Homo sapiens: one gene and its partner. The protein of the gene in region 1 interacts with the protein of each later gene in a pairwise test. Each region holds a gene or a part of one and is shown in the gene's direction. Other genes may lie near its edges.

What was found. Proteins that work in one complex are often made in the same cells at the same time.
Region 2: the proteins of HID1 (region 1) and RCN3 interact in a two-hybrid assay, tested with the Homo sapiens proteins (one large-scale study listed by BioGRID and IntAct).

Annotation. Positions count from the first base shown.
Region 1 is NC_000017.11:74,959,260-74,962,759, reverse strand, and holds part of HID1 (protein HID1), read left to right. Parts: intron 1-419; coding exon 420-526; intron 527-770; coding exon 771-887; intron 888-2,511; coding exon 2,512-2,734; intron 2,735-2,822; coding exon 2,823-2,879; intron 2,880-3,500. UniProt on the Homo sapiens protein: May play an important role in the development of cancers in a broad range of tissues.
Region 2 is NC_000019.10:49,526,533-49,530,802, forward strand, and holds the start of RCN3 (reticulocalbin-3 precursor), read left to right. Parts: upstream 1-1,470; 5' UTR 1,471-1,526; exon of another isoform or gene 1,527-1,849; intron 1,850-1,934; 5' UTR 1,935-1,940; coding exon 1,941-2,182; intron 2,183-4,270. UniProt on the Homo sapiens protein: Probable molecular chaperone assisting protein biosynthesis and transport in the endoplasmic reticulum.

The DNA of each region.
Region 1 (3,500 bases):
ATGGCTGGGCACAGACACCCATTGTCTTTGCTTGCCCAGGGGTGTGGGGCTCAGACACAGGAGGGCTGGCCCTCTTGCTTCCTGTGGTGGCATGGACTTCACCTTGAGTCTTCTCTGCCCACCCCCAAACCCGGGGCACCCAATCCCCTGCCCCTCCCTCCCTTTCTCCCTGTCCCAAACTGGACTGAGCAAGTGAAAGAACCAGTCTGAGATGGAAGAAAAATGAGCTTTCAAGAGGCCTAAGAATATTCACTCCTGCTCTTGTGCATGAGGGCCAGGCCATTTTGAGGACCTGTCTTTAGGAGAACTGGCGGTCTCTGCCCCTGGGACTGTGTGAGGCTCGAGGTGGCCAGGTTCTGACCCAGGCTGCTGTTCACCTCTCGACCCCCTAACCCGGCTTCTTCCTGGCCTGTCCCCAGGACTCGGCAGAGGACGTCCACTCCCTGGACAGCTGTGAATACATCTGGGAGGCTGGTGTGGGCTTCGCTCACTCCCCCCAGCCTAACTACATCCACGATATGAACCGGTGAGCTTCGCCCAGGCCCGGAGCCCTCAATGCAGCTGGACCCCGGGCCGGGCCCCCGCACAGCTCAGAAAGCCCATGGGGTCTTCCCAGAAGACCGTCCTCACCTATGACCCGACCTTGACCTTACAGGGGTCAACGGGAGTAACTTCCTTCCATGGACCTGGGCTGGGGCGCTGGGCTGGGTGGGCAGAACCTCCAAGAGGGGACTGGGATCCTAAGGTGCCCTCCCCCTTCCTCCTACAAGGATGGAGCTGCTGAAACTGCTGCTGACATGCTTCTCCGAGGCCATGTACCTGCCCCCAGCTCCGGAAAGTGGCAGCACCAACCCATGGGTTCAGTTCTTTTGTTCCACGGAGAACAGGTGAAGGGCCCTTGGCCTTTCTGCGCTCTCTTCCCTCTTATTCCAGGCAATCCAGAGCTGAGTCCATTCGCCAGCTCTGGGTCTCGTTTGAGGGGAGGTGCTGCCCCCTGGTGGTGATGAACTTTAACTTACCAGCCACACCTCACACTAGCCCCGTCTCTCCTTGGAGTCCTCGACAGGACAGAATCTGGGGGCCCCTCAGTAATCCGTCCCTGGGTCCTCCATCAAGAGCCGCCTGTCCAGTAGAAATAGAATGCAAACCACGAGTGCAATTTTAAAATTAAAAAAGTTAAAAAGTAAAATTGGGCCAGGCGCGGTGGCTCACACCTGTAATCCCAGCACTTTGGGAGGCCAACGTGGGCAGATTACCTGAGGTCAGGAGTTTCAGACCAGCCTGGCCAACATGGTGAAACCGTATCTCTACTAAAAATACAAAAATTAGCCAGGCTTGGTGGCGGGTGCCTGTAATCCCAGCTACTCGGGAGGCTGAGGCACGAGAATCGCTTGAACCCGGGAGGCGGAGGTTGCAGTGAGCCGAGATTGCGCCACTGCGCTCCAGCCTGGGTGACAGAGTGAGACTCTGTTTCCAAAAAAAAAAATAAATAAATACAATAATTAATAATATATTTCATATAACCCAATATACCCCAAACTTTAGCATTTAACATGGAATCAGTATACAACATTACTGAGCTGTTTGACATCCCCCTTTTCATACTAAGTTTTCAAAATCCAGTGTGTATTTGTCTTGGTTCCGATCAGCCACATTCCAAGGGCTCGACAGCTCCTTGTGGCTTGAGGCTGCTGTGTGGGACTCTGCAGCTTAGAGACCGGGTCGGGGAGTGTGTGACAAATACCTCGAAGGGCAGGGAGGCCCAGCCCACATGGGGCACTCATGGACTGTGGGGGACACGTGAGCACGGGGTGGGGGGAGGGTGTCACACGTGCCACGTGGCAGAGTTGAGTATTTGAGCAGGTAGCTCCCACTGGGAGCTGTGTTGGCTGCATAGGGTCTGTGCCCGGCAGGTGGCGGTCGACCTCCGCCTTCCAGACTCTGGTCCCTACATGACACGCCTTATTCTTCAGGTTTCCTAGCCTTCTGTTCAACCTTCCACCCTACTCCAGAAGAGAAGGGAGCCAGGCGACCCCCTCCACCAGCCACAGTCCGAGGCTGGCCAGAGTTTTCTTTCTCACCAGCCTTATCAGGCAAACTGCCACCCTTTGTCCCTCACTTAACCTCTCTGGGTCTCAGCTTCCTCATCTGTAAGCTGAGCAGCTTGAACCCTGACATCTCTTGAGTCTGAGTGGAGTCATTCTGTGGCTTGGGAGCTGGTTGGCTGAGCGTGGGCTCTGCTCCCTGAGGGGAAGCCCACCTTCTCCACAGGCCTCCATTCCCATCTCTGAGGACCCAAGGGAGGGTATCTGCCCCTTAAGACCCTAAGGGGTATGAATGTGTCCTAATCATGGCTCTGGGCTTCCCACACCCACTCTTTCCAAGCCACTCCCTGACGTGGTGCTAAAATGCTTGTTGAATGAGGCTGACCTTCCCACGTGGCCAGAGAGGTGTGGCCAGGGGGCTGGGCCCCAGTGCAGCCTCTGCAGCCTTGTCCCTCTCCTGCTGCAGACATGCCCTGCCCCTCTTCACCTCCCTCCTCAACACCGTGTGTGCCTATGACCCTGTGGGCTACGGGATCCCCTACAACCACCTGCTCTTCTCTGACTACCGGGAACCCCTGGTGGAGGAGGCTGCCCAGGTGCTCATTGTCACTTTGGACCACGACAGTGCCAGCAGTGCCAGCCCCACTGTGGACGGCACCACCACTGGCACCGCCATGGATGATGCCGATGTAAGGATGGGAGCATGGAAGGGACAGCTGCCGGGGCCACGGGTTGTGGGGAGGACGCCTGCTCACCAGGGGCTTCTCCTCTTGGCAGCCTCCAGGCCCTGAGAACCTGTTTGTGAACTACCTGTCCCGCATCCATCGTGAGGAGGCAAGTCCAGTCCCCACAGTGGCTTTGCAGGGTGCAGGGGGATGCAAGTGAGACAGGGATATGGGGGATCCTGACCCCTCCATGAAGGAACCATGCTCTCTGTGGGCTGGGGCCACCCTAGGTGAAATAGTGGCAGGACTGTGAGGGTTTCAAGATGCAGGAAGGGCTGATGGCCTCACCTGGGTAGAGGTAACTGGGAAGGCCTCTAGGAGGAGGTGGCTGATGTCATTTCAGAGGTGGTGGGGACAAAAGGGGAATGACAGTGGACAAGGGCTTCAGGCCAAGCAGTCCCAGTTCATGTGTCTTGTGATCTTGGTGGGAAGGTGCTTGAACTCCCAGAGTTCTAACTTCTGCAGCTAAAACACAGGACCCTAGCTGCCTTCTCACCCCAGCTAGTGGCAGGCCTCAGTAAATGACAGAACAGTGGAATGCTCCTCGAGTTGTGATGGGGTGATGGGGGAGTATTTTGGGGAGGGGTAGAAGGATGGAACCTGCCAACCATGAGTCCAAGGTGGGCAGGGACAAGGTTGAGGGTGTGCATGTGTGGGAGTTCACTGAGAGCAGCAGCCTTGCTCAAGGGGCGCACAGCCCAAGGACAGAGAGTCTGCAGTCTAGTGGAGG
Region 2 (4,270 bases), on another chromosome or scaffold:
GTCCGGAGTCCTGTGGCGCGATCTCGGCTCACTGTAAGCTCCGCCTCCCTGGGTTCACGCCATTCTCCTGCCTCAGGCTCCCGAGTAGCTGGGACTACAGGCGCCTGCCACCATGCCTGGCTAATTTTTTGTATTTTTAGTACAGACGGGGTTTCACCATGTTAGCCAGGATGGTCTCGATCTCCTGACCTCATGATCCACCCGCCTCTGCCTCCCAAAGGGGTGGGATTACAAGTGTGAGCCACCGCGCCCGGCCTAAGGTCACTTTTTTTTTTTTTTTTTAAGACAGAGTTTTGCTCTTGTTGCTCAGACTGGAGTACAATTGCGTGATCTCAGCTCACTGCAACCTCCGCCTCCCAGGTTCAAGCAATTCTCCTGCCTCCCAAGTAGCTGGGATTACAGGCATGCACCACCACACCCGGCTAATTTTTTGTATTTAGTAGAGACGGGGTTTCACCATGTTGGTCAGGCTGGTCTGGAACTCCTGACCTCAGGTGATCCACCTGCCTCAGCTTCCCAAAGTTCTGGGATTACAGGCATTGAGCTACTGTGCTCAACCTGAGGTCATGTATTTTTAATTCATAACTTTTACAAATATTTACTGGATGACTGCCATGCCAGGCATTTTGAGGAATTCTTGGCTACTGTCTGACCACCTGAATCCTTGGAGCCGAAGAGGAGCGAGGAGCAGTGTTCACTCTTGGAGGAAATGGGATATTTCCTCCGGCCCCTTGATTCTGCTCTCCCTTTTCTTTTCTTTTCTTTTCTTTCTTTTTTTTTTTGAGACGGAGTTTCGCTCTTGTTGCCCAGGCTGGAATGCAATGGTGCGATCTCGGCTCACCACAACCTCCGCCTCCCAGGTTCAAGCAATTCTCCTGCCTCAGCCTCCCAAAGTAGCTGGGATTAAAGACATGCGCCACCACACCCGGCTAATTTTGTATGTTTAGTAGAGATGGGGTTTCTCCGTGTTGATCAGGCTGGTCTCGAACTCCCGACCTCAGGCGATCCGCCCGCCTCGGCCTCCCAAAGTTCTGGGATTACAGGCGTGAGCCACCGCGCCCGGCCTTTTTTCTTTTCTTTCGTTCTTTTTGTTTATTTTTGTTTTGTTTTGTTTTGTTTGGTATAGAAGTGTTGGAACGTACACCTCTTTCTTAAACCATCCTGACAAAGGGAAAGGGAAAAATACATTTCCCGTGAGGCGTTGTGACTAGAACAGCTGGAGGTGGACGGCAGAGTGCCGCGACGACTGCCAGGAGTTGTAGTTCTCCCCGGCCGCGTCACTGCGGTGTCGCCCACCCTTCTTCCCCGGGCAGGCCGCGGTTTCCTTTGTGGACGTGGCGAGGAGTGCCCGCGGCACCCCGTGCACTCATTGGCCCCGCCCCGTGAGACGCTCGTGCGAGCTCATTGGGCGGGGGGCGGGGCTCTGCGCTGCCAGAGGCGGGGCCTGACTGGAGAGCGGCCGAATTGGGCACATTTGCGGGAACGCAGAGCGGAGCGTGGAGAGCGGAGCGAAGCTGGATAACAGGGTAAAGGGAGTGGGTGGGGGGCCTCTGTCCAGGGAGGGCGGCTCGGGTCGAGGACCAGGGTCCGGACTGGGAGCAATGACGGGGAGCCTGCCTGACCTCTCGCTGGCCACAACTATGCCCTGCACCTTGCGTGGGATGTGCGCCACGTCTGTCTCTGTAATTCCCCCTGGCAGGTCTGGGACCCCCCTGAGACTCCGTCAGAAGATTCGGTCCTCCCCATAGGTGGCTTTACCTCTAAGCATCCCGCCCTCTTTTCCCCCATCGCCCGCCCTTTTTGAGCCCGAAAGCTTGCAGCCAACTTCCAACTCCCTGTCCTGTCCTAGGTAACCCCTCCACCCCGCCATTCTCCTATCCCGTGTCTGTCCCCATCCCTGTGACCCCTGACCCCTGGCCTTTGCCACTCCCCAGGGACCGATGATGTGGCGACCATCAGTTCTGCTGCTTCTGTTGCTACTGAGGCACGGGGCCCAGGGGAAGCCATCCCCAGACGCAGGCCCTCATGGCCAGGGGAGGGTGCACCAGGCGGCCCCCCTGAGCGACGCTCCCCATGATGACGCCCACGGGAACTTCCAGTACGACCATGAGGCTTTCCTGGGACGGGAAGTGGCCAAGGAATTCGACCAACTCACCCCAGAGGAAAGCCAGGCCCGTCTGGGGTAAGAGAGACATTCGGTTGGGGCGTGTCCAGAGGTGGGGCTTAGGAGAGAGACGCGGGGGTATCGACAGGGGTCAGAGAAATGGCGTGGACTGAACTTCATTTCTTTGTGAGAAATGAAATTCTACCTTCTATCCTTGGGAAAAAGAAATTAAGTTAAAATTGAGGCCTAAAGAGGACCTTTGAGACCGGGCGTGGTGGCTCATGCCTGTAATCCCAGCACTTTGGGAGGCCAAGGCAGGCCGATCACTTGAGGTCAGGAGTTCGAGAACAGCCTGGCCAACATGGTGAAATCCCGTCTCTACTAAAAATACAAAATTAGGCAGGCGTGGTGGTGGGCACCTGTAATCCCAGCTACTCGGGAGGCTGAGGCAGGAGAATCGCTTGAACCTGGGAGGTGGAGGTTGCAGTGAGCCAAAATTGCACCACTGCCCTCCAGTCAGGGCGACAAAGTGAGACTCCGTCTAAAAAACAACAACAACAATAAAAAAGAGGACCTTTGAGGGCAGCAAAATCTGGGTTAGATTCTGCCCCCTAAGCGCTCCTTATTCTTTTGTCCCAGACATCTCCCCTCCCCAAGCCTCAGTTTCCTGCTCTGTAAATGGCAGGGACTGGTGTGGAAAATGAGGTTTGGCCTTTAAGGAGCCCGGCCAGTGCAGGAGAGTGGCAGAGCCCTGAGTTTCAGGGTGAGCTGGGTGGAATGGAGCCCTGTCCACCCTCTCCGTCCAGGCCTGAGCGCAGGGGGGCGCGATGGGAGCAGCCGCCTTCTTCTGTGCATCCTCCTGACACTGATTGAGCCTGCAAAGGTTTATCGAGCACCTGCTATGTGCCAGGCACTGCTCTAGGTGCTGAAGTCACAACAGCTAACACATCTGTCCTCCTGAAGTTTACACTGTGGTGAGGGAAACAGCAAGAAGTCAATAAGTAGAAAGTGGATCAAATAGAGATAAATGCATCCAAGAAAGATAAAGCAAGAGAGTCAGAAAGTGTGGAGGGGAGAGGTTGTTGGTGGGGGGGAGTTGCAATTTTTATTTATTTATTTATTTATTTATTTACTTATTGAGATGGAGTCTCGCTCTGTCACCCAGGCTGGAGTGCAGTGGTGCGATCTCGGCTCACTGCAACCTCCACCTCCTGGGCTCAAGCAATTGTCCTGTCTCAGCCTCCCAAGTAGCTGGGATTACAGGCGCTAGCCACCACGCCCAGCTAATTTTGTATTTTTATTTTTTATTTTTATTTTTGTTGTTGTTGTTTTTGAGATGGAGTCTCGCTCTGTCACCCAGGCTGGAGTGCAGTGACGTGATCTCGGCTCAGTGGAACCTCCGCCTCCCGGGTTCAACCAGTTGTTCTGCCTCGTACTCCCTAGTAGCTAGAGTCCTAGCTACAAGTGAACGCTACAAGTCCTAGCTACAAGTGAACGCCTCCACATCCAGCAAAGTTTTTTTTCTTTCCTTTTTTTTTTTTGGAGACAGAGTGAGACTCTGTCTCCCGGGCTAGAGTGCAGTGGCGTGATCTCAGCTCATGCAACCTCTGCCTCCCAGGTTCAAGCAATTCTCCTGCCTCAGCCTTCCGAGTAGCTGGGACTATGGGTGCACGCCCACACGCCCAGCTAATTTTTTTTTTTTTTTTTGTATTTTAGTAGAGATGGGGTTTCACTGTGTTGCCCAGGCTGGTCTCGAGCTCCTGAGCTCAGGCAATCCGCCCGCCTTGGCCTCCCAAAGTGCTGGAATTAATGCGTGAGCCACAGCACCCAGCCCAGGCCCAGGTAATTTTTCTTTTTTTTCTTTTTTTTTTTTTTTTGAGACGGAGTTTTGCTCTTGTTGCCCAGGCTGGAGTGCAGTGGCGCAATCTCGGCTCACCACAACCTCCGCCTCCTGGGTTCAAGTGATTCTCCTGCCTCAGCCTTCCGAGTAGCTGGGATTACAGGCATGCACCACCATGCCCGGCTAATTTTGTATTTTTAGTAGAGATGGGGTTTCTCCATGTTGGTCAGGCTGGTATCGACCTCCTGACCTCAGGTGATCTGCCCACCTCGGCCTCCCGAAGTGCTGGGATTATAGGCATGAGCCACCGCACCCGGCTGGAGCTG